Linked DNA regions of Homo sapiens: region 1 is linked to region 2. Evidence: fine-mapped expression QTL. A gene starts in region 2. The other region holds a variant in brackets. All regions are shown on one strand. Distances are between the middles of the regions.

What was found.
Region 1: its variant is fine-mapped to the expression of CACNB4 in testis (GTEx, PIP above 0.99).

What each region holds. Positions count from the first base shown.
Region 1 is chr2:151,863,118-151,879,542 of GRCh38, reverse strand. It overlaps CACNB4 (calcium voltage-gated channel auxiliary subunit beta 4), which reads left to right. Exons shown (of 14, transcript NM_000726.5): 5 at 2,987-3,117; 6 at 7,050-7,126; 7 at 8,682-8,701; 8 at 8,932-9,012; 9 at 10,308-10,366. Among named protein-coding and RNA genes, the nearest start is that of ARL5A, 43 kb to the right of the region's middle. RefSeq lists an enhancer at 3,923-4,596. The variant G/A (reference allele first, on the strand shown) is at 7,548.
Region 2 is chr2:152,091,691-152,108,115 of GRCh38, reverse strand. It overlaps CACNB4 (calcium voltage-gated channel auxiliary subunit beta 4), which reads left to right and starts at 9,072. Exons shown (of 14, transcript NM_000726.5): 1 at 9,072-9,167; 2 at 9,703-9,786. The coding sequence starts at 9,105. RefSeq lists a silencer at 8,874-9,163.

The DNA of each region.
Region 1 (16,425 bases), 230 kb after region 2:
CTATAATCAAGTTATAGCCTTCCCTCTCATCCATCACTTAGAAGGCCATCTATTATGCACCATGTTAAGTAGTTTCTCAATAATAAAAAAAAAAAAGCTTAAATGCAGAGAAAAGCTACAACTATGCTTGTCACATAAGCCAAATGATGATCAAATTAAGCTCTTGATTTTACATAGTGACTTTCTCCCTAGTAACTCAAAAAATTCATTCCTCCTGAGTCAGATTCTCACTGTGCTTTCGCTGTTTCCTAGAACTAAGTTAAAACATTTTGGGAAGTTGAATTAACCATTTCAGCAAGCCCTTTAAAGTCATTTGGGTGCCATTTAACAAATGAGTGTTCCAGTGGGCTATGCCACTTCATTTCAGGAAGTAACTTAAGCCCTAGGAAACTATGACTCATGGTCTGTTTTGTCCTCAACACAGTAAAATTTAAATTCCAGACCTATGCACCCAAGATTCTAAAAGGGTCCCTTTGCCCTTTGTTAATTCCAAAATAAACAGACCTATTATTTTAGGCCTGTTATACTAAAAGACAGGAAAGTGGGGAAAAACAACTAAGACCTAGATTGTTCAAGGTTTTATATCAGGTCAATTCACATTTTTTTCTTTTCTTTTCTTTTTTATTTTTTTGGAGACAGGTTCTCGCTCTGTTTTCCAGGCTGGAGTGCAGTGATGCAATCACAGCTCACTGCTGTCTTGAACTCCTGGGCTCAAGTGATCCTCCCACCTCAGCCTCAGCCTCCCAAGTAGCTAGGACTACAGGTGCACTACTACACCCAGCTAATTGTGTAGTCTAGTATAGTGCACTACACTAGCTAATTGTGTAGTACACTAGGTAATTAGTAGTACACTACTATACTAGCTAATTGTGTAGTACACTACACTAATTGTATAGCTAGCTAATGGTGTAGTATTGTGTAGTACACTAGGACTACAGGTGCACTACTATACCCAGCTAACTGTGTGTGTGTGTGTGTGTGTGTGTGTGTGTAGACAGGGTCTTGCTATGTTACCCTGGCTGATTTCAAACTCCTGGCCTCAACTGATCCTCTTACCTCAGACTCCAAAAGTGCTGGGATTACAGGAATGTGCCACCATGGCCAGCCCTCAATTTACATTTATTTCAATGCAATCTCATACTTTATGCCACTCATATAGTATGCATGGAGAAGCTGTGTGCATAACAAAGGCCAAATTCTTACCAGAACATATTTCTCATGAGTGTGAAGCTGTTACTCAGAATAATTTAAAGTTTACCCAGAACTTCATGGTGTGATTATTCAATGAAACCTTCCATTCCTCCTTCATAATGTATCAGAATCATATATATATATATACACACACAGACATATATATAAATTTCGCTTTTCTATGAGCTCAGCAAAATATACTACATATCATTGTTACATTTTGAAAAAAGTATATGTTTATAAATATATATATTTTGGGTCAAAATAGGAGAGAATTATCTTGCCCAACACTGATAAAAACAGTAAAGGAAGTTTTTAGAATCATCTCCAGAGAGTTTAAACAATAGAGCTGGTATCTATTTTGTAGAAGTGACCTAGCTGAAACCTTTCCTTGAGGCAGGGAGCTTGAACTAAATTGCTTTCTGCTGTATAATTCAGCAAATGTATAATTAGAAATGCAATTTTGCCAATCCACCAAATAAGCCCACATTGACAGACTCTCACCCCACACTGGTTGAAGCCTTCTCATAGACTTGAGTTTGCTTGTCATGGAACTTAACTTAAATGGAAATTCTGGAGTTCCTCTTGGGCTTCAGAGCATTTGGAAGTTATTTGCAAAATTTCACATACAAATATATAATACGCTCAGACTTTGTAAGTGTAGGCATCTTTTTCTTCAAGTAGTAAGATGGACCTTAATTTGCAAATCTATATTTGAAAGATCATGACTCTTCCCCAGTGAGATTAGACCACAGATAGTATCGTGGAATTTTTAACTGAAAGCTTTTGACAAATTATGGACTATTAAATGTATTTCATCTCAGACATATCTGTCTTGCCTTCCAGAGTTCCAGTTACATTGGTGCATATTTATCCTTATAAAATATGTTCTTTAAGAATTGGTTAGAGCTTCTTGACAAAGACCAAAAGAATCCAAAGGTTAGGACCAGACATTAGTCCAGGGATTCACAAACTATAGCCCACAGGTCCAGTCTGACCCACTCTCTTTTTTGTAAAGAAAAGTTTTATTGAAACACAGCCATGCTCACTTGTTGATGTTTGTCTGTGGCTGCTTTCACACAAGGACAGCAGATTCAACTAATTGTAACAGAGACCACGTGGTCTGCAAAGCCTGAAATATTTACTACTTGGACCTTTACAGAAAAAGTTTGCAGAACCCTGCTTTAGTCTATGCATCTACCTCAGATATATATATATATAGTATGTATATATAGATATATATGTATATATAGATATCTATGTGTATATATAGATATCTATGTGTATATATAGCTATCTATGTGTATATATAGATCTATATATGCACACATACATATACAATATACTTTATATTAATATATAGTATAGGTATATATACACATATATACATACACAATATAGTTTATATAAATATAGTATATATAGATATATACATATATACATATACAATATAGTTTATATAAAATGTATAGTATAATATAGTATAGATATATAGATATATACACATATACAATATAGTTTATATAAAATGTATAGTATAATATAGTTTATATAAAATATAGTATATAGTATAGTATATAAAATATAGTATACACACATATACATATAAAATATAGTCTATAGTATAGTATATAAAATATAGTATACACACATATACATATAAAATATAGTTTATATAAAATATAGCATATCATATCATATAAATAGCATTTTATTCTTCTTGTCCCCTAAGATTAATAAACAACGTGAAGATAAGTGAATTACTATTGATAGCAATTTTATTTCTGAATTCCAGAAATATAACAATGATTGGTGGATAGGAAGGCTGGTGAAAGAGGGCTGTGAAATTGGCTTCATTCCAAGTCCACTCAGATTGGAGAACATACGGATCCAGCAAGAACAAAAAAGAGGACGTTTTCACGGAGGGTACGTTCCCATCTTTTCTATGCACTTTTTTTTGGTCAGAAAATTGGGTGATATTTTCAAGGGTGTATACTTTCAAAGTAGAAGATACTTTTCTGTGTGCAAAGTGTTTCTGAAACTGACACAGAAGAGTTTCAGATAGTTCTCTATCCTCTGTGCATGCTGAAGCCTAACACCACTGGAGACCATATGAATTCCATGGCAGAGACTGTTTTCTGTGGCCTCAGCAAGCCCTCCTTGGAACCCAAGCTTTCCTCTAGGAGAGTCACTTCGGGCATTCTTTCTCCACACAGTGAGTGGGAGCTGACCTGAACCAGCAGTATGGCTCCTCTTGGTTCGCTTACAGAGACTCTCCCTTAAGTGGGCACAAAATGTGATGGTATCGCCCCTACTGGGAAGTGAGGAGCCCCTCTGCCCGGCCAGCCGCCCCGTCCGGGAGGGAGGTGGGGGAGTCAGCCCCCCGCCCGGCCAGCCGCCCCGTCCGGGAGGTGAGGGGTGCCTCTGCCCGGCCGCCCCTACTGGGAAGTGAGGAGCCCCTCTGCCCGGCCAGCCGCCCCGTCCGGGAGGGAGATGGGGGGGTCAGCCCCCCGCCAGGCGAGACGCCCCGTCCGGGAGGGAGGTGGGGGGTCAGCCCCCTGCCCGGCCAGCCGCCCCGTCCGGGAGGTGAGGGGTGCCTCTGCCCGGCCGCCCCTACTGGGAAGTGAGGAGCCCCTCTGCCCGGCCAGCCGCCCGTCCGGGAGGGAGGTGGGGGGGTCAGCCCCCCACCCGGCCAGCCGCCCCGTCCGGGAGGGAGGTGGAGGGGTCAGCCCCCTGCCTGGCGAGCCGCCCCGTCCGGGAGGTGAGGGGCGCCTCTGCCCGGCCGCCCCTACTGGGAAGTGAGGAGCCCCTCTGCCCGGCCACCACCCCGTCTGGGAGGTGTACCCAACAGCTCATTGAGAATGGGCCATGATGACGATGGCGGTTTTGTGGAATAGAAAAGGGGGAAAGGTGGGGAAAAGATTGAGAAATCGGATGGTTGCTGTGTCTGTGTAGAAAGAAGTAGACATGGGAGACTTTTCATTTTGTTCTGTACTAAGAAAAATTCTTCTGCCTTGGGATCCTGTTGATCTATGACCTTACCCCCAACCCTGTGCTCTCTGAAACATGTGCTGTGTCCACTCAGGGTTAAATGGATTAAGGGCGGTGCAAGATGTGCTTTGTTAAACAGATGCTTGAAGGCAGCATGCTCGTTAAGAGTCATCACCACTCCCTAATCTCAAGTACCCAGGGACACACACACTCTGCCTAGGAAAACCAGAGACCTTTGTTCACTTGTTTATCTGCTGACCTTCCCTCCACTATTGTCCTGTGACCCTGCCAAATCCCCCTCTGCGAGAAACACCCAAGAATGATCAATAAAAAAAAAAAATGTGATGGTATGTGCAGGTCCCGGCACTGATAGTACCTTCTCCACCCCAGGCTTTTTGTGGCATCTCTTGTCTCCTGGTATTTGGGTGAAGACAGCTTCAGGTGAATCAACCTCTAGTGAGCTACTGAAGTAGGCATGTAGATCTCAGAGTGCAGGTATTTAAAGGTCCCAGGAACACAAGCACAGCTTGACAGAAGAGAAACCAAATCATCCTGAGTCTGCATGTATTGTGTCGCAGCCTGCACTGAAGCATTGATTTGATATGTTACACTTTTTTGAAAGTTCTAAAATAGAAGCAGCTCTTTCTCTTGACCCTCAACCTCTGTTTTCTGTTGAATGCTTTTCTATTTCAAAAAACTCCTGTGTTCTTTAGGCGCCTACCTTTGTCATAATAAGAACCGCACCAACTGTAATAGGAGATCACAAAAGTATAGTTACCCCACTTTTAATTACCAATCTTTTTTAGCATATAACTTGCCAATACTATTATTAATATTAATCCCTCTTGTCCCTTGTATTAGTCTGTTCTCATACTTCTTCTTTTTTTTTTTTTTTCTTAGAGTCTCGCTCTGTCGCCCAGGCTGGAGTGCAGTGGCGCAATTTTGGCTCACTGCAACCTCTGCCTCCTAGGTTCAAGCGATTCTCCTGACTCAACCTCCTGAGTAGCTGGGGTTACAGGCACGCACCATCGTGCCTGGCTAATTTTTGTATTTTTGGTAGAGGTGGGGTTTCATCATATTGGTCAGGCTGGTCTCGAACTCTTGACCTCGTGATTTGCCCGCCTCGGACTCCCAAAGTGTTGGGATTACAGGTGTGAGCCACTGTGCCCGGCCTGTTCTCACACTTCTATAAAATTGGAGAACTTATGAGGAAAAGAGCTTTAATTGTCATGGTTCTGTAGACTGTAAAGGAAGCATGGCAGCATCTGCTTCTGGGGAGGTCTCAGGGAGATTTTACTGGTAGCAGAAGGCCAAGCGGGAGCAGGTGTCTTACATGCCTGGAGCAGGAGGAAGAGACGGGGAGGTGCCACACACTTTTAAACAATCAGATCTCACTATAACTCACTCATTGTCACAGGAACAGCACAAGGAGATGGTGCCAAACCATTCATGAGGGACTGCCCCCGTGGTCCAGTCACCTCTCACCAGTCCCCACCTCCATCACTGGGGATTACATCTCAACATGAGATTTGCGGGGGACACAGATCCAAACCATATTATCCCTTTTTTTCTAAAATTTTGTCTTCCATGCCCCTTTTTAGACACATGGGGAGCATGTGTTCCTGTCTTGGGGTCTTTGCATTTGCTGTTTTTTCTTACTGGAACCTTTTTCTTCACACTTACACCCGGCCACTCCATCTGCTTTATATCTTTGTTAGGTATCACCCTTTCAGTGACCCCTTTCCTGCCAATTGTATTTAAAATTGTACCCACTCCCCTTCCCTGTACTTCCCATCCCTTCCCTGACTTAGTTTTCTCTGTTGCACTTATTACTCTCAGAAATATTATATATTTACCTATCTATCTTGTTTGGTATAAGCTGAGCATCCATAATCTGAAAAGCTGAAATCCAGAATGTTCCAAAATTTGAAACTTTTTGAGGACTGACATGATGCTCAAAGGAGATGCTCATTAGAGCATTTTCGATTTCAGACATTTGGATTAGGGATGTTCAACTAAGTATATAGTGCAAATTTCCGAAATCTGAAAACAGTGGAAATCCAAAACATTTCTGCTCCCAGGCATTTTGGATAAGGGATATTCAACCTGTACTGATATGTCCTACTAGTATATGACTCAATAAGGGAAAGGATTTTGTCTCCCCAATGCCGCTGTCTTATTTCTACTTTCCAAAACAGGGATGTACAATCCATATTTGTTGAATAAAATAACTGAATTATTATCATTTTCAAAGTTTTATTGTTATTATTATTTCTTAATTGTTACAGTCATGGGCCATATAACTTTTTTGTCAAAGACAAAAAGTAGGAAGGTGGCAGCTCCCGACGGCATTTGTGGGCTTCAGGGAAGCTTCCAGAGCACACCTGAGGAGACCAGAGTTGAGGATCTTCTATTTAAATAAATAATATTTTTCGTGACCAATTCCCTACGATCAGTTCTTAATTCTGATGCCCACATAATCATCTTGTAAGAAGAAATGGTTTCTCCAGGTCTAACTGCTTGTTTTGAGCTGTGTTTGACATCTGACTGGCACATTGGTGCCTGGTGTTAGGTTAACAAGCAGTTCATAAGACCATTCCCGTCAGTGATGGTTTTGTCTGATTTCCGCACTGAGTAACTAGAAGAGATGCTTTTGCAGAGTATTCCAGGTCTCGGCTAGTTCTCCACATTCTCTTAGAAATGAGGTCAAAGAAAACATTTGGATAGATTCTTGAAATTCTTTATAGCAGAATTTGGTGTGTTTTGAATTATTTAATAGGATGAGGGCCAAAGAAAGCTTTGTACTCTCAAGTTCTATTTTCAAAGAATCTGGGGAGTGAGTCTTTAGTTCCTTTTCTATATCCTAGGAAATCAAGTGGAAATTCTTCTTCAAGTCTTGGAGAAATGGTATCTGGGACATTCCGAGCAACTCCCACATCAACAGGTGAGGGTTGTAGTTAAACTCTTTTTCATACACTGTATTCCTTTTAAAAATATTTGAACACACATGCAAGTAGTTTTGCTAATTTGGAAACAATTTGAAGGCTTAATTTAAAGATTCTCTAATTAATATTTCATTTCTCATTTGTTTTCTATGGTAATTTGATTTCATTTAAAATGGTATTAAAAATTCATGTCATTAGAATATAATTTTGAAAAATCTTATTTACCCCTCAGTGTTAATAACTGTCCATTGTGTAAATTGATATTCAAAAAATTCATTATTTTACCTAAGGAACGGACAGAGTTTAAGATGGTGAAGGCCAATAAAAAAAGGAAAAAAATGATGCAGACTCTCAAGAAAATGCTGTTTTCAGTCTCCATGTGGAATTTCAGGATGTATTAGTACAGCCCGAGCTGGAAGG[G/A]TTGAAGCAGAGAGTAAGGCAGGGCCCAAAGGAGGGAGGGCCTCGTTTACATTTGGACAGCAGACAGCCAAGCCCTGGAATTAATGGTAATGAAGAGATATTGGTGGCCTAATAGGGAATTGTGGTACATTTGGAAACGATGGAGTTATTCATGTAGGAATTTTTCTTCTACCACATTCCCTGATTCCTATCGGCTAATTTCATTCTGGCCTAGAACTGCTGTTGCATTAGGGCATCCAGTGTCCTAGTTACCAATTCCAATTGTATTACCAATTTGGAATGGCAAGTCCAAGGCCCTATTCTGGCCTACCAAAACTGGAGGCAACTGGATTGGTTCTGGAGTGGTTCTAAGTGTCTGGGTCCTTGTTCATGTGAAGCCCTCTTATCTACAGGACACTGAACCAAACCAGGTTTCTGAGTTGTACCCAACTAGACTGGAGCTGCTTGGATGTCCACAGAATCGCTTTAAATCAGTTATTGAGTATATTTTGCTTCGTTCCCATTTGTTGGACATTCAGGACATTGAACACTTTAGCTATTACAAACAGGAAAGAACAGGAATAACTCATTATAAATTTATCTGAGGAATAACTGGTTATAAATGTATTTGAAATTTAGAAGCAAGATAGTAGGAAAAATGTGCCAATATTCTAGAAAATGGGCAAAAATGCCCAAGGGACTGCAGAATTATGAGTTAACAAATATAAAAATAACTATTGATTGAGGTGATAGTCATTTTTGCCCAAGTGGTTATTCTGTTTCCTTTTATGAAATTGCATTTGTCTACCTTGTTCCCAGCAACACTGTGCTGTGTCCAGCACGGGAACAACCCATGGTGATTGGCTGGCCCGGAACTTCCAGTGTTGCTCTCAACTCCTGTACCCAATTCCCACCCAGTGAGAAATCAGGATATAAGGTCATTTGTACCAGGGAGGAAGCTGTCTGTTTTTCATACATCTTCAAAATTGACGTGTCCAGAATGAAATCATAAGGCAGGTTCTCCAAAGTGGGCGATAGGAAGGTGGTGAAGATAATTACAGGGACAAATGGGTACATTCTTCCATCTTTTAAACTCATGTACTGTCATTTGCAGAGTTTACATATTTTGATATGGCTCTCGTTATTGTCTTTTAGCAAAACAGAAGCAAAAAGTGGTAAGTTGTGTTTCCTTTTTAAATCTACTGTTAAGGTTCCTATATATACATGCCTGCAATGCTCCATTTCAGTGACCCAAGTGGCTATAAAATAAGGGAAGAGCCTCCTCGGTGGGGACTTTGATAATCATTTGTCGTTCAACCTGAGAATTATGAAATTATGAATGTTGTGGCTGTGGAGAGGCATGCTCAACCTCACCTTGTCACGCGTGTCGAATCATCTTTTTCAGACGGAGCACATTCCTCCTTACGATGTTGTACCGTCAATGCGTCCGGTGGTGTTAGTGGGGCCGTCACTGAAAGGTTACGAGGTACAAATATCATCTGTTACTCTTCAGTTCTTGATCGAGCACCCAGGAGACAGTCATGTTGACGCTTGCTCCTCAAGGGTCTGTTTCCACGTGGGTCCTGATGGAAGCCAGTGCTCAGCATGGGAAGGCAGGGGGTACCGTGTGGGGCTCATGAGGCCCTCTGCCCTTTCTTTCCTCTCTTGCACACTTCTCATCTTTTATGTATTACATTGTTTAGAAATACCTCCCTCAAAATATTCACAATGGGAAGATCTGGTCAAAGATTTGCTGTACATTAAATGCAAAGAAAAGGACTTTATCTGTCTTGACCATTCTCATTATTATTAGAAGTAATAGAGAATGAACAGCACAAGAGGACAAACAATCAATCTTCCAGCAAACCCAAACCTTTAAAGCCCAAACAGAGTTCACCCTGCTGGGTTTTTAAGATGATGGCATATGCCACCAAATCCTTCTCTGCTTATTTATTTTAAAGGGCACATGTTTTAAAAGACCACTAAAAACATTAGTGAACTTTGGAGATTAAACAAAACCATGTGACAAGGAAAAGAGTAGAGACTTCGTTTCAGATGTTTGTTTTGACTTTGTGCTAGCTTGGATTAAAAAATAGGTAGAACGTGACATTAAACTCTGAAGGTGAGCAGCCTCCAGGGCACCATTCCCATCGAGCTAGGACAATGTGTGGCACATAGTAGGCACTCAGTACACATTTGCTGAATGAATTAATGAATCGCTTTCAGGCAGATCTAAGAATCCTGGCTCTATCCCCCTCTCTTTCTCTCTTGTCTTTCTCAGAGTTGGAAATGTCAGAGGGATGAGCAGGAGAGTGGTCTACAAAAATCCAGCCATGGGCATGGAGAATTTCCGCCAACATACACAAACTAGCAGGAAGGCTGAGTCCAGTGCTGGCCTCAGTTCTCTAGCTGCTCCTCACTGGAGGCAGGCACAACTCAGGCGTGCCAAGGATACCCGGCACCTGTGTACAAAGCCAGCCTGTTGTCTCCTGGCAGCAGTTCTATCCCCTAACGAGGGAAGAGGGAAGAGGGAAGAGGGTCTGGTGAACACTGCTGGTTTATTCCTCAACACCCTGGAGGAGAACCAAGGGGGGTGGAAATTAGCAATTGCACATGGTTAAGCATGAAAAACACCTTCCATGGTAACCTCCCCCTAGGAGACGAATGGCTACAATAAGGTCTTGGCTCATAGTACCCTTCCCTCCCTCCTCTCTCCCTTTTGACTTCTCTCTCTCTCTCTGCATGTGTTTGCCTCATTCTTTTTTTCTCACCTCTGCAAAGGTAACAGACATGATGCAGAAAGCCCTCTTTGATTTCCTGAAGCACAGGTTTGATGGGAGGTGAGAAATATAGATGTTTTTGTATTTTTATTTTCCTTTAACCAAACTTGTGTGATAAATTGAATTGTAGATCTATGTTTCCAGAGATTTCAGAAGTTCTCTAGTTAAAAGTTAACTCAGTATTCTTGGGAAGAATATAATAAAAGAACTCTGAAAATATGAAGTATAACATTGAGTCCCCAGTGAAGAAAGGACCATGAGAAGAAAAATAAGCCATTTGTTTTATTTAAATGTATATATCTTTATTTTCTCAGTTATTAATAATTTCATACCAAAATGTTTTTTATGAAAAAATATTAATTAAAATATATAATATTTCTCATGAGTATAGTGGCTTGCTGGTCAAACTAGGCAGTATTTGGGAATTGTGTATGTGTGTGTGTGTGTGTGTGTGTGTGTGTGTGTCATATGAAAGCATAAATGTCAAGTACTGAATTTCCTCAAAAGAAGAGAGTGAGAATTATTTTAATCATAAGCCTCCCAAAGTGATCATTTTGTAGGGAATAGTACTTATTTGGATATTTATTATAGTTGTGGGTTGTTTTTATTAGAAATGTCCTTGTTATTTTATTGATCTTTTTTTAATGTATTTTACTATGATCCATCAACAATATGGCTCAGGCATTAGCCATTAAATAATTTTATCATTTAAGTTTTGTGAAAAATTCTAAAGAAAGTTTCTCTGTTTTGCAGAGAAATGGTAAAAAGCCTGTATTGACTCAATTCTAAATATTAAGCTCTTTCACAGTGCTGAATGCAGTCCATGTAAAAATAACCACATGAAAAAACCTGAGATTTATCAGAAATGTAGGAAATTTAAATGGGGTGCATCAAAAAGTATGGGCAAATGCATCCAGTTTATTACTGTAGGATTGAAGAAAAACATCACATTCTTTATTTTTGAAGGCAGTAATTAAGCCATTCACTTTCTCTTTGCTAAATTATGAGAATCCACTAAATGCACAAAATAATTTTAAAATGTAAAAAAACTTCAGATAGATTTTAATAAATTGGTATATTAAGAATAAAAACAAGCATGGTATTGCTTTAAATATAAATTGTATGCATTTGTTAAAATAAAAGCTTTCTGGATAATTGGGTAAAATATTCATTAGTTTCTGGAACAATATAGAAAGTTAGTAAACAGATTTTAGTTTAAGAAATAAGAATGCTTCTAGGTACATTAGTATATAGGTCAGGCTGCCTTAATAAATAGACCCCAAAATGTGTAGTGATTCAAACACAATGGAAGCTTATTATTGCTCACTTAACAGTCTGAAGCAGGTGTTCCTTGGCTGGGAGGGAGGATAGAGTTGGGGGAGGGGAGAATTGGGCAGAAAGTTTGTTCCCTCTGTCATTTGGGGCCCTTAGCCCAGGTACGATGTCTCTAGTCAGCTTGCCCGGCCTGGAGGTAGCGCAACTGACATTTCACTGGTTAGAACTTGGTTATGTGGTCATACTTAATTGCAGCGGAGGCACTCTTGCAGTCCAGGAGGAAGAGGAGATAGAATTTGTTGAATCAATAATAGCCTTCGTCACATTCATCTACTGGACAAAGGCTTAATAAGAAAGATGTATTTGTTCCATTTCACTCTCTTTAAAAAAGAAATAGGCAGATAATGAAGTAGCTTCAAAGAAAATAAGTTAAAAGCCCTGAATCCTAGAGCATTGGAGTTGGAAGGATACATAAAATGTCTTTTAGACTCATCATTTCTCCAATAACCACAATCAGATAGACAACCTGCTTCTGTTTGAAACTTTTGGTTATTGGGATTACACTTTCTAAAAAAGCATTGCAAAAAAATAGCTGAACTCTGACTTTGTAACTTAATAGGGCTGGTCTTGGTCTTGCTGTCTGATGCTCTGGCCTTAACCCTAACCCTCATGCAGGTCCCTGTGGATTGAAGGCAGCCAGCATGCCTTGGTCGCACGTGCATAGTTCCTTCAGATATGTATGGAGTCACATGGTTTCAACCTGTGGAGCTGTTACCTAAGGCAGTTCTGAGCAGTGCCGAATCCACTGGCCCCATAACAGCCCTATCTGAACAAATCCCATCCCATAAGACAGTGTTAGATTATTTTGGTCTATAACATACTTATACGCAACAGTGCTGTTAAAGGTTTGCCCTCAAGAATGAAGAATCTGATGTTCTTCCTCAATCCTGAGGCCCAGAAAAAGGGAATTTATTTAATTGTAACAGCAGAGATTTGTCTCGAATCAAGTAGAATTGTCGCATCCATTACTGTACACATACTACTGAAGTTGGTTTTAATAGAAATTGAATGCAAATTTCAATCTCAAGTATTCATGGGGTCTGATGACATGGCAGAGGGTCTGGAGGAAGAGCCCAGCAGTAGCAAAAGTAATAGCTGAAGAGAGAGACTTAGCCCTGGAGAAATCTGATATATTTCTCCAGCAGGAGAAAGATAGGTAGATATTAAAGGGGTGAGGGGTGAGAGAATGGACTTGATTTCAAATATTAAGAGGCCAGGCAGCAGAATGAACAATAAGGAGTTCCTTGGTTGAGTGTATGTGGAGACTTTGATAAGAAAGAAATTCGCTGGTAGCGTCACACTGACTCTGACATGTCTTCTTCGTGGGGAATATCGTTAGGTTTTGAGCTATAACATCATGCTGCATTATGTTTTACCAATTGATACAAGGAGAGAAAAAAACAAATAGTCTTTAATTGAAACCAGCCAAGAGAACAATGACAAGGAAGGCTTTAGCACAGTGACACGGCATAAACAATATGTTCTAATGGAAACCTACTCTGTGTTTCATGGGCTATGAATGCAGTACGTTAGACAAAATAGGAGAAAGTCCTATTATTTTTCAGAAAGTACAAAGAAGGGATCTGTTGGCTACGAGGCTTTCTTCTTTAATCTGCTTTTCAGATCTTAGTAGAAAATAATTCAACAAATTGGATGAAAGTCCAACAGTTTGACTATTGCAGAATCATAAACTTGGGATTTTTTTGATACCTTAGAAATTATTTGAGTCAGTTTAGAGCTACTTATTATACAATTTTATTGCTGTAGCTGCTATTGTGGGGCCTAACTGTAATACATGTAAGAAAAACAGAATACTAGGCTGGGCGCAGTGGCTCATGCCTATAATCCCAGCACTTTGGGAGGCCCAGGTGGGCAGATCACCTGAGGTCGGGAGTTCGAGACCAGCCTGACCAACATGGAGAAACCTCATCTCTAATAAAAATACAAAATTAGCCAGGCGTGGTGGCGCGTGCCTGTAATTCCAGCCACTCGGGAGGCTGAGGCAGGAAAATCACTTGAACCTGGGAGGCAGAGGTTGCGGTGAGCCAAGATCATGCCATTGCACTCCAGCCTGGGCAATAGGAGCAAAACTCTGTCTCAATAAAAAAAAAAAAAAAGAAAGAAAGAAAGAAAAAGAAAAACACAATACTAAACAGTTCCTGAGCGCCCTCTGTATTTTTGAATATCTACATGAAGCAATGATTCCTGTGCTGACGACGACACAGTGGATACACAATGGGCATGGAGCTTCTCTCTTCATTTCACACCACAAATATTAATTGGGGATTACCCATTTGGATGAGGTTTGTTCAGCTGGCTGAATCTACCATTCACAGGCTGAACAGCCAGCAGTCAAACCAGTTGCAGTTTGTTGACCTATGCCAATCATTTCAAATCCCCCAAAAAGTTGTTACTTTAGGCTTTTGACAACTGGATCAGATCAACTCTGTGACATTTATTGGACAATTTGTAACTGATAATGATCATGGCCAAAAATCTTAGATGAACATCGTGTAACCTACACAGATAGGATCTCAAGCTAAAGGATGCTTTTAGCCTAAGAACACATAAAGGGAAAAAAAGGGCTTGAGAAAGAATTTGAAAGAAAAGAAGCTAAACATACAACTTAGGGAGACTCAAAGCGATAGTATTTATTAATAAAAAGAAATGGGAACAATTGGTGCTGTCACAAGGCAACCAAGCCATATAAGAATGAAGATAATTTCTAATTGCAGTCAACAAATGGAAAAAGAACAGCAGCAACTTCCGTTTCGTAATCAATTTCATTCTCCTATGCATTCTTCCTACTGTTTTCTATTCAAATGCAGACTCATAAACAGCCACTCAAACACCAGTAATAATTAATTGAACACTTGAGTGTCAAACTTGAATATTTAAATTAGTAGGTTTTGAGTACAGTGTATCTGACCTGATTCTCTCACCCACATTTCACGGACTCTGGGAATGAGAGGGGTCATGGTAGACTGCCCACTTTTGAGAGTAGGACATAAGGAAACTATCTCCTTCGAGTCTTTAAATCTCCAATAATTGTTTGCCTTGTGTACATTATATATGTGTTTATTAACAGAGGACACTATGAATAATTATTTAAGAATGCGCTTTTATATATAACCTTATTTGCTCTTAATGGCAACCCCATGAGATAGTTATGGCAAAGCTACTATTGCCATTTTATTGATTAGGATACTGAGGTCAAAAGATGGAATGACTCATGCAACTACCAAGACAAAGATCCAGGAAGATACTCGGGTCTCCTGTGCCTTTCCATTCTCCTGAAAGTGCACTGTTGCATTCTTCGGAACACTCTTCCCTACTAATACCAGAAGTTTTCAAAAATTATTATACTGTCTGGGCTGCATATTGGATGTAGCAAGGATAGAATATAGACAGATCTTACAGCTGTTACGTTACCAGCGTGGAAATACAAATTATTTTTTGATGAATCTGTCATAACTGAAAGTAATATCTTTCCACAGAAAATCACAGAAAACTAATACAACTCACGATGGATTGCAGCAGTTAGGATGAATTCTAAAGTGGAAATAAGCAACAATTGGGGTTCAGATTTACTATATTTAGGGAATGATGTTTGCTAGTTTTCAGGAACATTCGCTGCTACATCCAGTCTGCTGGGGAACTAAACTCCTATTAGTCTTTTACCTACTGGCCAGCAAGTCACAGAAAGTTTTCCAAGGGAACTTTTTAGAGATGTATACCAAACAAGGTACATGGGAATGCTGAAACTAGGGGGACTAGCTGAGACTAGGGGGTCTCAGCATAGCAAGAAAAGAAGTAGAAAGGATACCACTTTAAGTTAAAAAAAGTATATAAGCTAGATAGTATTCAGTTGTGAATGTGATTGCTTTTCTGGAGAGCCTTTTATAAAAAAGAATTTTGGGTTTGGTGTCTGGTTTTGATAATAATAAGCATCTATGCACAGAAAAGGGAAACTCCTATTTTGTCTTACTGAAGGTTTTCTAGGGCTGTGCATGTCTTCTTCTGAGCTCTGTTTTATGCATGTGTATTTTTATTAATCAATAACTTGTATTAGCAAACTAACTTGTATTAGCAAATAAAATGAGAAAACGTGCCCTTTATTGTCTGCATCTTTCCCTGTATTGGAACACATGAAAAGGTTTTTTTCTGAATTTTTTCAAACTTTGGTCGTGTTTGAAAATAGCTTTGTAAAAGTACTTTTATAACTCAGAAAAAAAAAGTGTGAATCTGATGATAATCCCTTCAGATTTGAAGAACCAAGAGTCTCTTGTTTGTATAGAACTAGAAAATTTTATTTTCACTAAAGGAGACTGGAATTCAACTTTCTGGGTTGTTGGGCCCTCCAAACATCATTAGTCCAAAAATCATTGGTCTAGAAAGTTGAATTCTGTCCCTAAACCCACCGACTTGTCTCTCGTCATATATTTGGATTGCTCTGAAACATGCCTGTATGTTTCTATCCAGCAGCTCCATTCTTAAATAAACCAGAAACCCAAAAACACAAAAATAAACACACATCGCTGAGCATGGTGGCTCACACCTGTAATCCCAGTGCTTTGGAAGGCTGAGGTGGGTAGATCACCTGAGGTCAGGAGTTTGAGACCAGCCTGGCCAATGTGGTGAAACCTCATCTGTAGTAAAAATACAAAAATTAGCCATGTGTGGTGGCACATGCTTGCAATCCCAGCTACTTGGGAGGCTGAGGTGGGAGGATCGCTTGAAACTGGGAGGTGGAGGTTGCAGTGAGTTAAGATTGCACCACTGCA
Region 2 (16,425 bases):
CACCCAGGCTGGAGTGCAGTGGCACAACCATAGCTCATTGCAGACTTGAACACCTGGGTTCAAGAGATCCTCCCACCTCAGCCTCTTGAGTAGCTGGGACTACAGGCACACACCACCATGCCAAGGATTCACTGGGTTTTATAGCATGTAAATTTTTTAGGGTTAGGAAAGTAAACATTTTAAATCCAATTCTTGAAAACTTAACCTTTAATATCCTGAAAGTACATGGCTTATGTGCCTTTTGAACAGATTTTCAGTTTGGACCAGAACACAGGGGAAGGGGGAGAGGTAATTCTGGAGAAATTCTTTAGAACAAGAGAAAATAGAACCTGTAAGATGAAAACTCTGAAACTTTATGCCATGGTTAGTTGGACATAAATGTAAGAGGTTAATTACACAAATCTATAATATGTAACTAAGCACATGTGCCACTATTGTGATTTTTGTATGCTCCTAGATTAAAAATACAACACACTAGATATGCATGGACCCTAGACAAAATGTGTTTTAACTTAATTTTTTTTTTTTTTTTTTTTTTTTTGAGACAGAGTTTCCCTCTGTTGCCCAGGCTGGAGTGCAGTGGTGCCATCTTGGCTCACTGCAACCTCTGCCTCCTGGGTTCAAGCGATTCTCCTGCCTCAGCCTCTTGAGTAGCTGGGATTACAGGCACACACCACCACGCCCGGCTAATTTTTTGTATTTTTGGTAGAAACGGGGTTTCGCCATGTTGGCCAGGCTGGCCTCGAATTCCCGCCCTCAGGTGATCCGCCTGCCTTGGCCTCCCAAACTGCTGGGATTACAGGCGTGAGCCACCACATCCGGACGATTTAATTTTTAATTAAGAAACACATTGTCATCTTATATTCCTGAGCTCTGTGAGTTCTGCAAATCATTTTTTTTTTTAAACGGCTCTTTGGACAAGACTTTGACTTTAGGAAGCACTTAACGAAAGTATTTATTAAGTGACAATAAAGTTTATGAAGAGAGAATCTGTAGCTGACAAAGTGATTCAGCCGTATTGAATGTTTTAGGAAAGAAGCAGAGTCTAATAGCAGCCACTTGCTCTTGAACAGTTCGTTCTCTTGAGCTCAGCTTCTTAATTTGCTAAATGTGGCGTTTCTTCTAAACAGTTACTAAATTCTCTTCCAGCTCTAAAATTTTAGAATTTTTAAAAATAAATTTTTATTTTGGAATAGTTTTAGATTTATTCACAAACAATCGCTAAGTTGGTACACAGAATTCTACACCTAGTTTCCTTGATTATTAACAACTTCTCCTGGTAAATTTGTCATAATTAATGGGCCAGTATTATACATTATTATTAATTAAATTTCATACTGTATTCAGGTTTCTGTAGCTTTCACCTAATGTCCTTTTTCTGTTCCAGGATCCCATCCAGGGTATACATCACATTTAGTCATATCCCCTTAGGCTCCTTTTGGCTCTGACAGTTTCTCAGACTTTCCTTGTTTTTGATGACCTTGACAATTTTGAGGAGTACTAGTCATATATTTTGTAGAATGTTCTCAATTGGGATTTGTCTGACATTTTCCTCATGATTAGGCTGAGGTTGTGGATTTTCACCCCAGAAGTGCGATTCTCGTCGCATTCTATCAAGGGCACATACTATCACCCCGACATTGCTGTTGATGTTGATCTTGATCACCTGGCTCAGGCAGCGTTTGTGGAGTTTCTGCACTCCTCCCTTTCCTGCTATACTCTTTGGAAGGAAGTCACTATATGCAGCCCACACTTTACAGGGTGAGAAGTTATTCTTCTCTTTCTTGAGGGTAGAGTTTCTACATAAATTATGTGGAATTTTCCACATGGGAGGTTTGTCTCTTTTCTCCCACGTATTTATTTGTTTGATCATTTATTTTTATCACTATGAACTCATGGGTATTTCTTTTATACTTTGGGTTTTAATTCAATACTACTTTTATTACTCAAATTGTTCGAGCTTTGGCCATTAGGAGCTCTTTCAGTTTGCTCCTATTGCCCTTTGACATACCCATCATTGTGGTTTTGATTCTGGGGTTCTTTTTTAAAGCACTTACCTTACTTTCTGACACTATTAAGATGCTCCAGACTCCTCTTGTATATTTCCTGCCCCAGTCCTAGAATTAGCCATTTGTCCAAGGTTGCCCTGATTTCTTCTATTAAAGGATAGTATTAGAAACCAACGTCTTGGTACTAGATGTGTTTGTTGCTACTAAGGGGTCATTGCTTCTAGGCCCTCAGCTGAAAGCAAGAGAATATATATATGTATGCTAACTCATGTATATACAGCTATCTATAAATATTTATTTTCTTTTCCTTTTTTTTGAGACGGAGTCTTGCTCTGTCGCCCAGGCTGGAGTGCCGTGGCGCAATCTCAGCTCACTGCAAGCTCCGCCTCCCAGGTTCACGCCGTTCTCCTACCTCAGCCTCCCCAGTAGCTGGGACTACAGGCTCCCGCCACCACGCCGGGCTCATTTTCTGTATTTTTAGTAGAGACGGAGTTTCACTGTGTTAGCCAGGATGGTCTCCATCTCCTGACCTTGTGATCCGCCCGCCTCGGCCTCCCAAAGTGCTGGGATTACAGGCTTGAGCCACCGCGCCGGGTCTTTTTTTTTTTTTTTTTTTTTTTGAGACGGAGTCCTACTCTGTCGCCGAGGCTTGAGTGCAGTGGCATGATTTTGACTCACTGCAACCTCTACCTCCTGGGTTCAAGTGATTCTTGTGCCTCAGCCTCCCGAATAGCTGTGATTACAGGCAAGAGCCACCACGCCCAGCTAATTTTTGTATTTTTAGTAGAGACATGGTTTCGCCATGTTGGCCAGACTGGTCTGCAACTGCTGACCTTAGGTGATCCACCCGCCTCAGCCTCCCAAAGTGCTAGGATTACAGGCATGAGCCACCGTGTCCGGCAAATATTTCTTTTTAAAAAGTTAATTTTTTTTTTTTTTTTTTTTTTTTTTGAGACAGGGTCTCACTCTTTTGCCCAGGCTGGAGTGCAGTGGCACAATCACAGCTCACTGCAGCCTCAACCTCCCGGGCTCTAGTGATCTCTCACCTCAGCCTCCCAATTTGCTGGGACTACAGGCACACACCACCATGCCCTGGTAATTTAGAAAAAAGTTTTTTGTAGGGATAGGTCTCACTATGTTGCCCAGTCTGGCCTTGAATTACTCGGCTTAATTGAGCCTCCTGCCTCAGCCTCCCAAAGTGCTGGGATTACAGGCGTGACCCTTGGCATGGGGCCCTATAAATATTTCTGTATATAACCATCTGTATCTTTTAAGTTACCCTCGAGTTCATGCAGATTCTCTGACTCCAGTCCATTACCACATGGATCATTTTAGTCTCCTCCCCTTGCTTCTATGTAACCTTCCACTCCAACAGTGGGAAACCTGGCCCCCATCATTTGCCATCTATGTAATGAATTGTTCAGTTCCAGTGTATACATATAGTGATTTCAGAATAGTTAACCCACACTCCTCAGAAACAATGTATCAACCGTAGTACAATGCTTATGCACAGTTCCTTTTAGTCTTACAGGCGCCACTCATTTCCAGGGTTACTTAGGCCAGCAGCCATTTTCTCCACATTCTTCAGTGACATTGTTTAATATATTTGTAATACAGTTATATTCTTTTGTCACATTCTGCATTCCATCCTGATCTCTCAACATCTTCAATGATTTTCTTTTTAATTCACCCACATTAAGGCTTACTTTATGCTGTGAAGTTCTATAGTTTTGACAGATCCATGTTAGGTATCCATCATTACAGTATCATACAGAACAGTTTCATCACCCTTAAAAACCCCCCATGCTCCACCTATTCAACCTGCCGTCTTCATCACCCCCTCCAGAACCACTGATCTGTTTATTGTCTTTATAGCTTTGCCTTTTCTAGAATCCCAAATAGTATATAGACTCAGACTGGCTTTTTTCATTTACCAATATGCATTTAAGGTTTATCCCTTTTTTTTATGACTTGATAGCTGAATAGTATTTTATCATTTTATCATATGATTAGACCATGCTTTGTTTATTCATTTACCCATTAATGGACACCTTGGTTGCTTCCAGTGTTGGGTTATTGTGAATAAACTTATTAAACATTTGCATGGTCTTTGTGTGGATGCAAATTTTCAGATCAGTTGCATAAATACTTAGGTTCTCGATTGCTGGATTGTATAAGATGGTTTAGCTTGTTAAGAAACTGCTAAGAAACTGCTCAGGTATGTTCCTAAGTGGCTGTACCATTTAGCATTACCATCAGCAATGAATGAGAGTTCTTATTGCTCCTTATCCTTACTAGCCATTGCTATTATCATTTTTATGTTTAGTCATCCTTATAGGTGTATAGTGGCATTGCATTGTTGTTTTAATCTGCATTTCCCCTAAAGTAAATGATGTTGAACATCTTGTCATGTGCCTATTTGCTATCTATGTGTCTTCTTTGGTAAAGTATCCATTAAAATATTTTGTTCATTTAAATACATTTTTTTTTTCAAATTTTAGAGATGGGTCTCCTGTGTCTCAGGCTGGAGTAGAGTAGTGAGATGATGGCTCCCAGCAGCCTCAAACTCCTGGGCTCAAGGGATCCTCCCACCTCAGCCTCTCAAATAGCTAGGATTACAGGCGCATGCCACCCACTGCGCATGGCTAATTTTTTTTTTTTTTTGTAGAGATGTAGTCCTGCTTTGTTGCTCAGAATGGTCTTCATCTCCCGGCTTCTTGGGCAATTCTCTCCTCAGCCTCCCAAAGTGCTGGGGTTACAGGCATGAGCCACAACCCCCTGCTACTTTTGTCCATTTTTTATTTGAATTGTTTATTATAGTTGAATTTTTTTTTTTTTTTTTTTTGAGACGGAGTCTCGCTCTGTCACCCAGGCAGCAGTGCAGTGACGTGATCTTGGCTCACTGCAAGCTTTGCCTTCCAGCTTCATGCCATTCTCCTGCCTCAGCCTCCCGAGTAGCTGGGACCACAGGCGCCTGCCACCATGCCCGGCTAATTTTTTGTATTTTCAGTAGAGACAGGGTTTCACCATGTTAGCCAGGATGGTTTCAATCTCCTGACCTTGTGATCCACCCGCCTCGGCCTCCCAAAGTGCTGGGATTACAAGCGTGAGCCACCGAGCCTGGCCTATTATAGTTGAGTTTTAAGAGTTATTTGTATATTTTGTTTACAAGTTCTTTGTCTTCTTATTATCTTAACAGAGTTTTTCACAGAGCAGAAATTTTTAATTTTAATTAAACCCAGAATATCAATTTTTATTTTCTTGCATCATGCTTTTGGTGGTGGTGTAAAATCTCAACACCAAACTCAGACTCATGGAGATTTTGTCTTCTGTTTTCCCCTAGAGGTTTCGTAGTTTTGCATTTACACTTAGGTCTGTAATCCATTTTGAGTTAATTTTTCTGTAAGATCTGAAGATTAAAAAAATAATAACTTTATTGACATATAATTCACATACCATACAATTCACCCACTCAAAGTATACAATTAGGCAGGGTGCAGTGGCTCACACCTGTAATCCCAGCACTTTGGGTGGCCAAGGTGGGAGGATGGCTTGAGTCCAGGAGTTCAAGACCAGCCTGGACAACACAAGGAGACTACAATTCTATAAAAAATAAAAAATTAGCTAGGCATGGTAGTGCCCACCTGTGGTCTCAGCTACTCAGAAGACTGAGGTATTGCTTGAGCCGGAGATGGAGTCTCACTGTGGTGCCCAGGCTGGAGTACAGTGACGTGTCACAGCTCACTGCAGCCTCGACCTCCTGGGCTTAAGCAATCCTCCCACCTCAGCTTCTTGGTTAGCTGGGACCACAGACACGCACCACCATGCCTGTCTAACATTTTTTTCTTTTCCTACTCATGCTTTTGGTGTCATGTCTAAGAATTTATTGCCAAATCTAAGGTCATGAAGATTTACCCTTATCTTCTAATAGTTTTATATTTTTAACTCTTTTAAGTCTTTGATTAATTTTGAGTTAATTTTTGTATATGATATAAGGCAGCAATCCCCAGCCTTTTTGGCACTAGGGATTGGTTTCATGGAAGATCAATTTTCTATGGGACGGGGATGGAGGATGGTTTGGGGATGATTCAAGCACATTACATTTATTGTGCACTTTATTTCTATTATTATTACATACTCACCATAATGTAGAATCAGTGGGAGACTTGAGCTTGTTTTCCTGTAACTAGATGGTCTCATCTGGGGGTGAGGGGAGATAGTGACAGATAATCAGGCATTAGATTCTCATAAGAAGCCCACAACCTAGATCCCGTGCATGTGCAGTTCACAATAGAGTTTGCACTCCTATGAGAATGTAATGCCACCCCTGATCTGACAAGAGGCGGAGCTCAGGCCATAATGCTCACTTGCCCCACCGCTCACTCCCTGCTGTGTGGCCCAGTTCCTAACAGGCCACAGACTGGTACTAGTCTGTGGCCTGGGGGTTGGGGATCCTTGATGTAAGGTCAGGGTTCAACATCATTTTTTCCACTCTGGTGTCAGAGGTAGGGACAATGATGCACCTCTCTCTGAGTGACATCACCATGTTAGATGCTGAATGTTTCTGGCAGAAGCACTCAAAGCAGTCCCACGTTTCCTGACTTCTTTCTCGATGAGCCAGAAGCAAAGGTGATCAAGGCCCAAGTACACTCAGTGCTGCTGTGGCCAAGGTACAGCCTCCAGGTACAACTGGGCAGAAGAAGGGAGCCCCCACCTCTGCCATACTTGCTTAGAACTTAGTCTCAACAACAGGTAGCTGCGGGGAGGATGACAAATGCTGATGTTTTGTCCCTCCTAGGAAGCTGACCCTCCAACTGGGAGCTGAAGGGTGAGGGAGCCCTGTGTTCTTGGCTGCACCAGTATAGCGTGGAGCCCTCTCTGAGTTGGAAGCATGAAAAGAGTGAGTAGGTCTTGGTTCAAATACCTCAAGCTCACTTTTCTTACTGGGTTTCAGTAGGTTTTCTTGAATAAATGTTCCTTCATTTGTTGTGCACCTTTAGGACCATTTTTAGAAATTTAAATGGTTGCTTATATATAAAACATATAATTTTCACCAGTTTTGCTTTGAGCTGGGTGTACAGGGCTTCTCATGTTGTTATGCCTCTGTGGGTTCTGTTTCAATAACTTAAAGTCAGTGAGAATGTGGACAGTGGAAAACCACACAATTCAAAGTCCAGTGCTCACATAGTAATTTAATATGCACACACGTATCAACTATGAAAATGGCTCAGAACTAAATACGGATTGGGTTGACAGTAACTAAAGTAGGGAGTCCTGCATGGTTAGACCTCCATTCCCCATAAATTCATGGAGTATCTACTATATGGAAGGTATAGGAATAGAAGATAAACCGCTAAAAATTCTGAAAATTAGGAGATTTTCACAAAAACAGAACTAACAAACTAATAAGCTAAGGCAGCCTATTCTAAGTGCCCAGAGAATACATGCTCCAGTTTTTCAGAAGCACAAGAATTATGTGGGACTGGAGTAGTCAGATAGGATTTCTGTGGAGGAAGCGTGAGCTGAGTCCCATTTAGAAGAAAGGTAGGATTCAGCCGGGTGTGTAGGTTGTTGGGAGGGCATATTCCAAGGAGGCATTCCAAAGCAGAAGAGCTCAAATGTGATTGTATTTGGAATACTTGGGTATTGATGACTAGACCTGCCTGCTTGCTGGAAGGTTTGTATAGAGAGATCAAGATGGAGAAATGAGATGGAGAGTGATCAGAAATGCAGGAGAGGCTGAGTTGTTGGACCATGGAGTTTGGACTTTATCTTAGAGAAGAGTGACTTGGGCAAGATATTTTAGGAAAATGGTTTTGCCTGTAGTGTGTAGATGGAATGAAATCTCTGCGTGTGTATGTGTGCATGTGCATACGTGCACATGCACCAGGAAGCCTGGAGGCAAGGACATTAGTTATAAGATTGTTACAGAGGTTTGGATTAAGTGAAGGGATTAGGAATGGAAAGGAAGTGTCTGGTGGATGGTAAGATATAACCAGGACCTCAATAAAGCCAAGCAATTATTAAAACAAGCATGGTAGTTGTGTCCATAAACATAAAGTCCTAGAATGCAAGCTGATTTAGCGATTTGAGATAGTAAGTATATTTTAATTTAAACGGAGTCTCTTTATTTTTGAATTTGCATATACTTTTCTTCCCTCTTCTTATTCCTCTGTCAATACCTCGCACTTATTCTTCCTTTCCGCAATCCCTCTCTTTTAATTTGATCACAAATTAATCTCTTGTATGTATTTACAGGAGGAAACCAATGGCAAACGTTGTGTATGGTTGCAAGGATGAGTTTCTCCCCCTTGAAAATATCCATTCGCATAGAAATGGGAGGCACAGTGACCAACTCTTGCTTCTTAGCAGGTCTAACATGACCTTCAAAACTCCGTAGGACATACTGGTCTTTGGCGGGGCAGCATCTCCCGTCAGACTCAGGCTGGCTGGGTTTCTCACAGCTGCCTGGATGTGTGTGACTCGCAGCTCTAAGGACAGAATTGCCAAAGCAATACAAAAACACGGACGAAAAGCAAGCCACAAAACCCCATGCCTTACACATTAGGCTGATGAGTGAAGTCGCGGAAGGTGGCTCTGCTCTTGCCCTTTTAAAATTCCAGTGCAGCAAACACACACACACACACCCGCTCGGTTCTTCCCATTCCCGCCACACTGCACCAGCTTCCGTCCCCAAGTCCTGATTCATGAACCGTGCCACCTTTGTCTCATTTTAAACTGTGCAGACTATTTTAATCTTGCCACCCCCATCCCAGATTTCCCCCTCCCTTCATCCTCTGGAAGCTCTGATGTAAAGCGCTTGCTAGGTGGGAGAGCGCTTCTCCCAATCCGCTCGGGTAGGCGAGTTTCCGAGAAGCCCCCTCCCCGGGACCCCGCCGCGAGCGCGGGGGAAGCGCCTCGGTCCCTTTAAGGTGCCGCGCTCTCCGAAGTGCGGGCAGGGAGCCTGGGCGCCGGCGCGGGTCCTGGAGCCGGGTGGGGAAGTCCTGCGCCCTCCCCCTCCGTCCGCAGCCCAGCCTCGGGGGCCAGCCCCCTCCGCCCACCGCACACGGGCTGGCCATGCGGCGGCTCTGAACGATGTCCTCCTCCTCCTACGCCAAGAACGGGACCGCGGACGGGCCGCACTCCCCCACCTCGCAGGTACCGCCCCCTCCTCCCCCTTCTCCTCTTCCTCCTCTTCCTTCCTCACACCTCCTCCGCCGCCCTAGCGCGCCCCGCCTTCGTGCCGGGCGTGCGGGGCCCCAGTCCCGGGAGTCGGCGGCCCCGCTCCCCCCACCCCTCCTCCACGTCCCTTTCTCCTCCCGCTCCTCCTCTTTCTCCTCCTTCTCTTCCTCCTCCTCCTCACCCTCCTTCGGGTCTCTGCGCTCCCGCTCCGGAGCCCGCAGCCTCCCCCAGCGGATGCCGGGGACTCGGACCCCGCACCCTGAGAGTCTTTGTTAATGGATGTGGTGGGTGCTTGCGGGCTGCTCTTCTCGAGCATCTTTTCAGCAGTCGAGGCTTGCAGTGGGTGGGTGGGGGTGGGGGCTGTATTTGGGAGTCGCGGAGGAGACTTGGGTGCGGGCTCTAGGGGACCCCAGGGAGCGGGTCCGGAGGCGGACTCCAGCCGGGGGTGGTCGCCCCGCTCTGCGCTGCGGTCCTCACCGGCTTCTCTCTGGCCCCCGTGTGTCGAGTCCAGGTGGCCCGAGGCACCACAACCCGGAGGAGCAGGTTGAAAAGATCCGATGGCAGCACCACTTCGACCAGCTTCATCCTCAGACAGGTATGAGAAGGAGGCGGGAGACCAGGATGGGGAGGAGGCCGAGCGCGCGGCGCGGGGGTCCTGGAGCCGGCCGTGGCCCACACGTGCGGGAGCTGCGGGTCAAGCCCGCGCGCGTCTCTTCCCGGCCTCGGCCGGTGCTCGGGCTCAGTCCCTCTCCCTCTAGCCTGGGCTCTTGACGTCTTCGCGTCCCGGCGTCTCCGCACCGCCCCGGGAAGTTAGTTTGTGCATGTGTGTGGACAGTTCGGTGGGGACCTGGCTTAAGTCAGGGACGTTGAATTTAAGAGCTGGAAATATGTCTGGTTGTATCTTTGGTGCGTGGAGAAATGTCTTTAATTCGTATAACTCGACCTAGAGTAACCAGACCCCTCGGGGCCGGGGACCTGGTTTGATTCGAGTTGAGATTTAGTGGTTTCTTCTGTTTTGTCCTAATTTGAATACTCTTATCTGTCTGGATCTTGGGAGAGATCGTCAAGCTCCGGTCAAAAGAAAGACACTGAGCAGAAAGTTTACTCTCACTTTAGGACCGCTTCTTGGATTCGCTTAGTTAGGGAAAGACAGCTGTATCTGGTTAAATAGGAATTAACGAAGGCCAGCACTCAGCTCCGGGTCTGGGTGCGCCTTCACTTCGTGTTTGTTTTCTTAGTGCTTGCTTTCTCCTGCGTGGTTCTAGTGCGAATTGTCTGTGCTCGGGATCTCCGGATCGCTGGTAATGCTCAATGCTTAGGTGCCTTTCACCTTGGCACAGGAAATTGGTCCTCAGTTTTCCAACTGTCCATGTGCTGTTAATGAAACCACCCCTGGCTGCTGGGTGCTAGAGAGATCATGCAATGAGTCACCTTGATCTTTCTTTGGAACAGAAATTGTCGGGGTGTGTCCTAGGTTTCGGGTGACCTAGGAAGACATTGGTCATCGCACCAAGAGGCTTTTATCCCAGGTCTTCCTGTGGGCTGCTGGAGTGACCTTGAGAAGTTCTTTTCCCTCTAGGTCACTCAGTATTGTGTAATGTGTTTTCTAACCTATGATGGCAGCTCTGGTGTTTCTTTAGTGATTATCATCAATTTAAACATATCAACGAGGAATTGATATCAAAATTGAACTCAGACCTCTCCTAAAAGGGTCTATAAAGCATATTTAGATGATATTTATTATGCAGAATTTCACTTTCTGCAGAAGCGGAAATTTTGACTACCATTTAATTCAGCGAGCACTAAGCATGTACATTATGGAAATAAATGCATTTTGGATTCCGAATTCATTCTAAAAGTGCATTCTATCCCCTTTGCAGTATTTAGATTATGTATTTGATAAGGCAAACATATTGTTTATCTTAAAAACATTTTTCTGTTATGCAACTGTTTGAGGTCTTGCTGGTGTTTATTTTGTAGGTGCCTATTTTTAGTGGTGTTTCATTGTTGCAAATTCTTGGAAATACTAATTACACAGCAGTTCTTTCCATAAGCTGTTTGACTAAAACTTTTGAGTTCATCTACATAACTGCACTAATGCTTTATTCTTCCTTCCAAGCACAAACAAAATAATATTCTAATATTCTTACTCTTTTCTCAATTTATGCCCGTAACTGATTGAGATGATGTATATATAAGTTCTTGTAAAGCGTGCTGCTATGTGCTGGCTTAAGAAATGTTAAAAGTATTGCATGCTAAATAATTTTGGGAATAATTTAAAGCAAAGTAGATTTTTTTAAATAAATATATTTCATCTATGAAATGGGAATTCATTGGTTTGATTAAATGGTCTAATTTAAATTCAGGAGTTAATTGTAATTGTATTATATACACAATCTTATTTTTCGGCACAAAAATAGTACTTAATTTTTTTCTTTTTTCAGACGGAGTCTTGCTCTGTCGCCCAGGCTGGGGTGCAGTGACGCAGTCTCTGCTTACTGCAAGCTCTGCCTCCTGGGTTCACGCCATTCTCCTGCCTCAGCCTCCCGAGTAGCTGAGACTACAGGCACCCGCCATCACGCCTGGCTAACTTTTTTGTATTTTTAGTGGAGACAGGGTTTCACCGTGTTAGCCAGGATGGTCTTTATCTCCTGACCTCGTGATCTGCCCACCTCATCCTCCCAAAGTGCTGGGATTACAGGCGTGAGCCACCATGCCCGGGCTACTTAATTTTTATGAGCACTTTACAACTCACTGAGTATACTACACATGATCTCATTCAAATGACATCATACAGACTTCTGTATTGGCTACAATAAAAATAACTGAGGGATTTACATTTCTTTGATGAGATAAGGAAAATGATTACAAATGCAGTTTAACAATAACTTTCGGATAAAATTGAAATCACCCCAATGCCAAAAAATATTTTTTATGAAAGCATAACAGCTGCTTACGTTAACAGAGCCTTGGGCTGGTCACAGTGGCTCACGCCTGTAATCCCAGCACTTTGGGAGGCTGAGGTGGGCGGATCACTTGAGGTCAGGAGTTTCAAACCAGCCTGGTAGCATGGTGAAACCCCGACTGTACTAAAAATACAAAGAAATTTGCCAAGCGTGGTGGTGTGTGCTTGTAATCCCAGCTACTCGGGAGGCTGAGGCAGGAGAATTTTTTGAACCTAGGCGGTGGAGGTTGCAGTGAGCCAGTATTGCTCCACAGCATTCCAGCCGGGCGACAGAGCAGGACTCCATCAAACAAACAAACAAACAAAAACAGAGTCTCATTATTTGTAGAATGACCAGTGATTTATTGATATTTGAATTCTTGATACATTGGAGTGATGAAATTTCTTGGTGCTGTTTCACAGTCTTTGTGATGCCTTTGAAGAAGATAGTGGAATACCAAAAAATATATATATTGCTAGTTTCTTTATCATATTATTTACAAAAATATGGAGAAAAGCTTTCATTAAAAAAAAAATCGATGTGTTACATTGGATGGGGAAGACTGGGCTGTTGGTGAAGCAGAGAAGGCAGTTGGCAACTCACCCAATAAGACAATATTTGTTCTTTGAGCTTGTTAAAAAGTTTCAGTGTTTCTGAGACTATATATGCACATATGTGTGCATGCACACACATGAACATTTGAATTGGCTGGAAAACAAGCAGACTGAGAAAGAGAGCCTGCTTCCACTCTGAGGACTGCTCATGAAGCCCCTCAGGAATCTTTGACCTTGTTTCTGGTCTACAAGATTTCTGGCTTCCACCATTTAGGAGGGATGGAGGTTTTGGAATGAATCCAGGGAGCAAATAAATGGCTTCTTTGAGGAAAGGTGAGAAGATGAAGTACTTTGCCGCTGAAAGGAAAGAAAGCTAGGAGTGACCCAGAAATGATCTTCAAAGTACACACAAAGGCTTTCTTTGGAAATGTGATGAAGTGTTCTCACTCTTCATTGGGGATGAAACTCAAGAACTGGCCCAAATTAGAAAGGAATGATGTTTTACAGCAAGACCTTCCTAAGAGTGTTGCCATCATTGGAGTGGCTTTCCAAATGAGGCCATAGAATTTTCTTTCAGGAGAGCCCTTCTTACAGGCTATTTATGAATGGATTATCTAGTCATATTTTAAAGTTTTAGGAAACACTTAAGTATTTGCTATGTGCCTAGCACTATGTTAGATATTGTAGGGGAGGAATGAAAAGATGGATGAGACACAGCCCCTGTACTCAAAGATTTTTATAATCTAGCAATGGAGACAGAGATGTCTACAAACAGTACGGTGACATGTAACAAGGAACGAGAGGGCGGGCTCAATGACCATGTACCCCGAGTATCTATTATATATCCATAAGTATATCTACCCATGGGTGTCACTACACATACAGTTTATACGGCTGAGTACTCCAAGTTAGTCCTCTTCCCACTGGGGTTTGAAGAGAAAATCTGATCAGAGTGGGAATAGTTTGTTGACTTTTCCTTGTTAAGTCTGCTCTTATGAGGCCAGCAAAGTCATACCTGGCCTGGCCCCTGCCTGCTTCCAGCCTCATCTTGAGCCATGATCTCTTAGCTCTGGACACAGAGTTTGAACACACTGTCTTCCCTCTTGCCACTGGTCCTTTGCATATGCTGAGCCCTCTGTGTGGCAGGTTGTTGTCCTTCCTTCTGCCTAGTTAACTTTTAATCTTCCCTGAGATCTGGGGGTTTAGTCTTCACTTCCTCTTCTAACCTTCCTGATAAAGTCAGTTCCCCAACAAGGGGCTCCCAGAGGGCCTTGTGCCAGTTTTCAGTAGCACCACCGCTTTTATTTAACATGTACTTAGATTTCTCTGTTACATTCTGTCTCCCCATCCGTATGAGTTCCACAAGGACAGGGACATGTCTGCATTTGATCTTTGTGTCCTCAGCATCTAGCATAGTATATGTTCAATAAACACACACTTGAATGAATGAAGCAGTGGATGGATGGAGAACTAACTTGATATATTTTAGGCATGAGGTTCTGCTCCAACATTAAATGCTTTGTTTAGTGGGGAGAAATTGCCTCCTAACCTCCCCCAAAACTCTGTGGCTTGAAACAACAACAATTTTTTATTTCTGTGTACTAACCAGACAGTTCTGCATTGTATGATGTTATATGGGCACTGGGATGGCTGGAAGGTCCAGAGTGGCCTCACACATGTGGTTGGCAGTTGGTGCTGGCTGCTGGCTGAGAACTCAACTAGAGCTTTTGGCAGCGGCTCAGTTTTTCTCCACCTGGGCCTCTCAACATGGTTGCTTGAGCTCCCGGATAATATGGTGGCTAGGTTCCAAGAAGTGAAGGCTGAAGCCACAGCTCTCCTAAGACCCAGTTTTGAAAGCTACACTGTATCACTTGTCTTGCAAACTCAAGTCAAAACAGGTCCAAGAGCCTGCTCAGTTGCAACAAAAGAGAAAACAGACTATCTTTTGATGGGGTGCAACAAGGTCACGTTATAAAAGAGCATATGGGTAAAAATACACACACACACACACACACACACACACACCAAAAAACAGCAAGTCAAATTCAGTGCCAATAGTATAAACAGGAATGTAAAGATTATTCAATTTATATAACAAATTAAAGAAAAATATATGTTGATTTCAGTAGGTGCCAAAAAAGTATTTGATAAATTTTGTAAGTTAAGAATAGAGCATATCTAGAGGCACGTGATTTTAAAAAAAGAAGAGAAGGCAGCTCCCTAAATCTAATAAAAATTATCTACTAAAATCCACAGCAAACATCACACTGAGCAGAGAAACTAGAAACAATATATGTATGCAGCAGTCAGTAAATGAGCAAATAATGTACATTGGGGCCCTCATCCATATTTTTGCATTCCCTGGTTTCAGTTACCTGCGGTCAACTGAGGTCTGAATGTAGGTGAGTACAGTACAGTAGCTATTTTGAGAATGAGAAAGAGACTACATTTCATATAACTTTTATTATGACATATTGTTAACATTGTTCTGTTTTATTATTAGTTGTTATTAATCTCTTACTGTGCCTAATTTACAAATTAGACTTCATCTTAGGTATATATGTATAGGAAAAAACATTATATATATATATGTATATATATGTAAATGTATATATGGTTTGTTACTATCTGTAGTTCCAGGCATCCACTGGGGTCTTGGAATGTATCCCCCACGGTTAAGGGTGGACTACTATATATTATACTACAGAGTACTATTCAGCCATTAAAGAAAAAAATAAAGCCACCCTGCGTGTAATGATATGGAAATGCATTTAAGACATTCATTTGAAATGCATTCAAGTGAAAAAAGTAAGTTACAGAATAATGTATAATAATATTTCATTAAAAAAAAAGAGCATATGGAATGGAAGATATGGTTGCAGCCATTGTTGGAACCATCTACCTTGGAACAAGGAACCTCGTATTTTTTAAGGTATGCTAATCAGATGATCGTTACAATAATTCAATGAACCACACTGTATTTAGAGATCTAAAACATTCAGATTTTTAGGTTGATACTAGAATAAAACAAGTTGGCAAACAAATTCTTGGGGTTATAATTTGAGCACCAGTTATAGATATGTTTCTCTGATGAAATGCAAATTCATCAACAGAAGGTATATGCTTTGCGCATAGCTCTAAGAATAATCATATGCCTACAGGCATGTATATATGCAAAATTTATCCATAAACTTAGAATCACAGAATTTTAGAACAGGAAGAGATTGCAGAAAGAAAATACTTCAGTCTCTTTTTTCAGATGAATAAAACATAGGCCCAAGGACATAAAGGTCATACCAATAGATAATGGTAGAACAGACACAAGGGATCCTGGCTCAGACTCTACTGTTTTTTTCACCACAATCCACTTTATCCCTGAATAAACAAGCCAAACACACAAACTCACACAGGTGTGGATACATGCAAGGACATATGGAGCTTATTCCTCTCAGATCCTGGAAACGTTCTGAATCTGCGTGGTTGCTGTGAAGAACCATAGCATCAGTTGAAGAATTTAGAGACTGTGGTTTCTTCCCAATTCTATCATGGATGGAATTTTTGTTTGCTTGGTTAGCTTCTTGTAGGATTATTCCTTCCACCCTCCAGTCTTCTACCAGTTCCTCCCATTGGCTGAGCCTCTCTGGAAGCCCACTGACCTGGGATTCTGGGAAACAAGCTGCAGGCAGTGGCCCTCTGAGATGGAAAGTAGAGCAGCGGAGTGGGAGGAGTGGATCT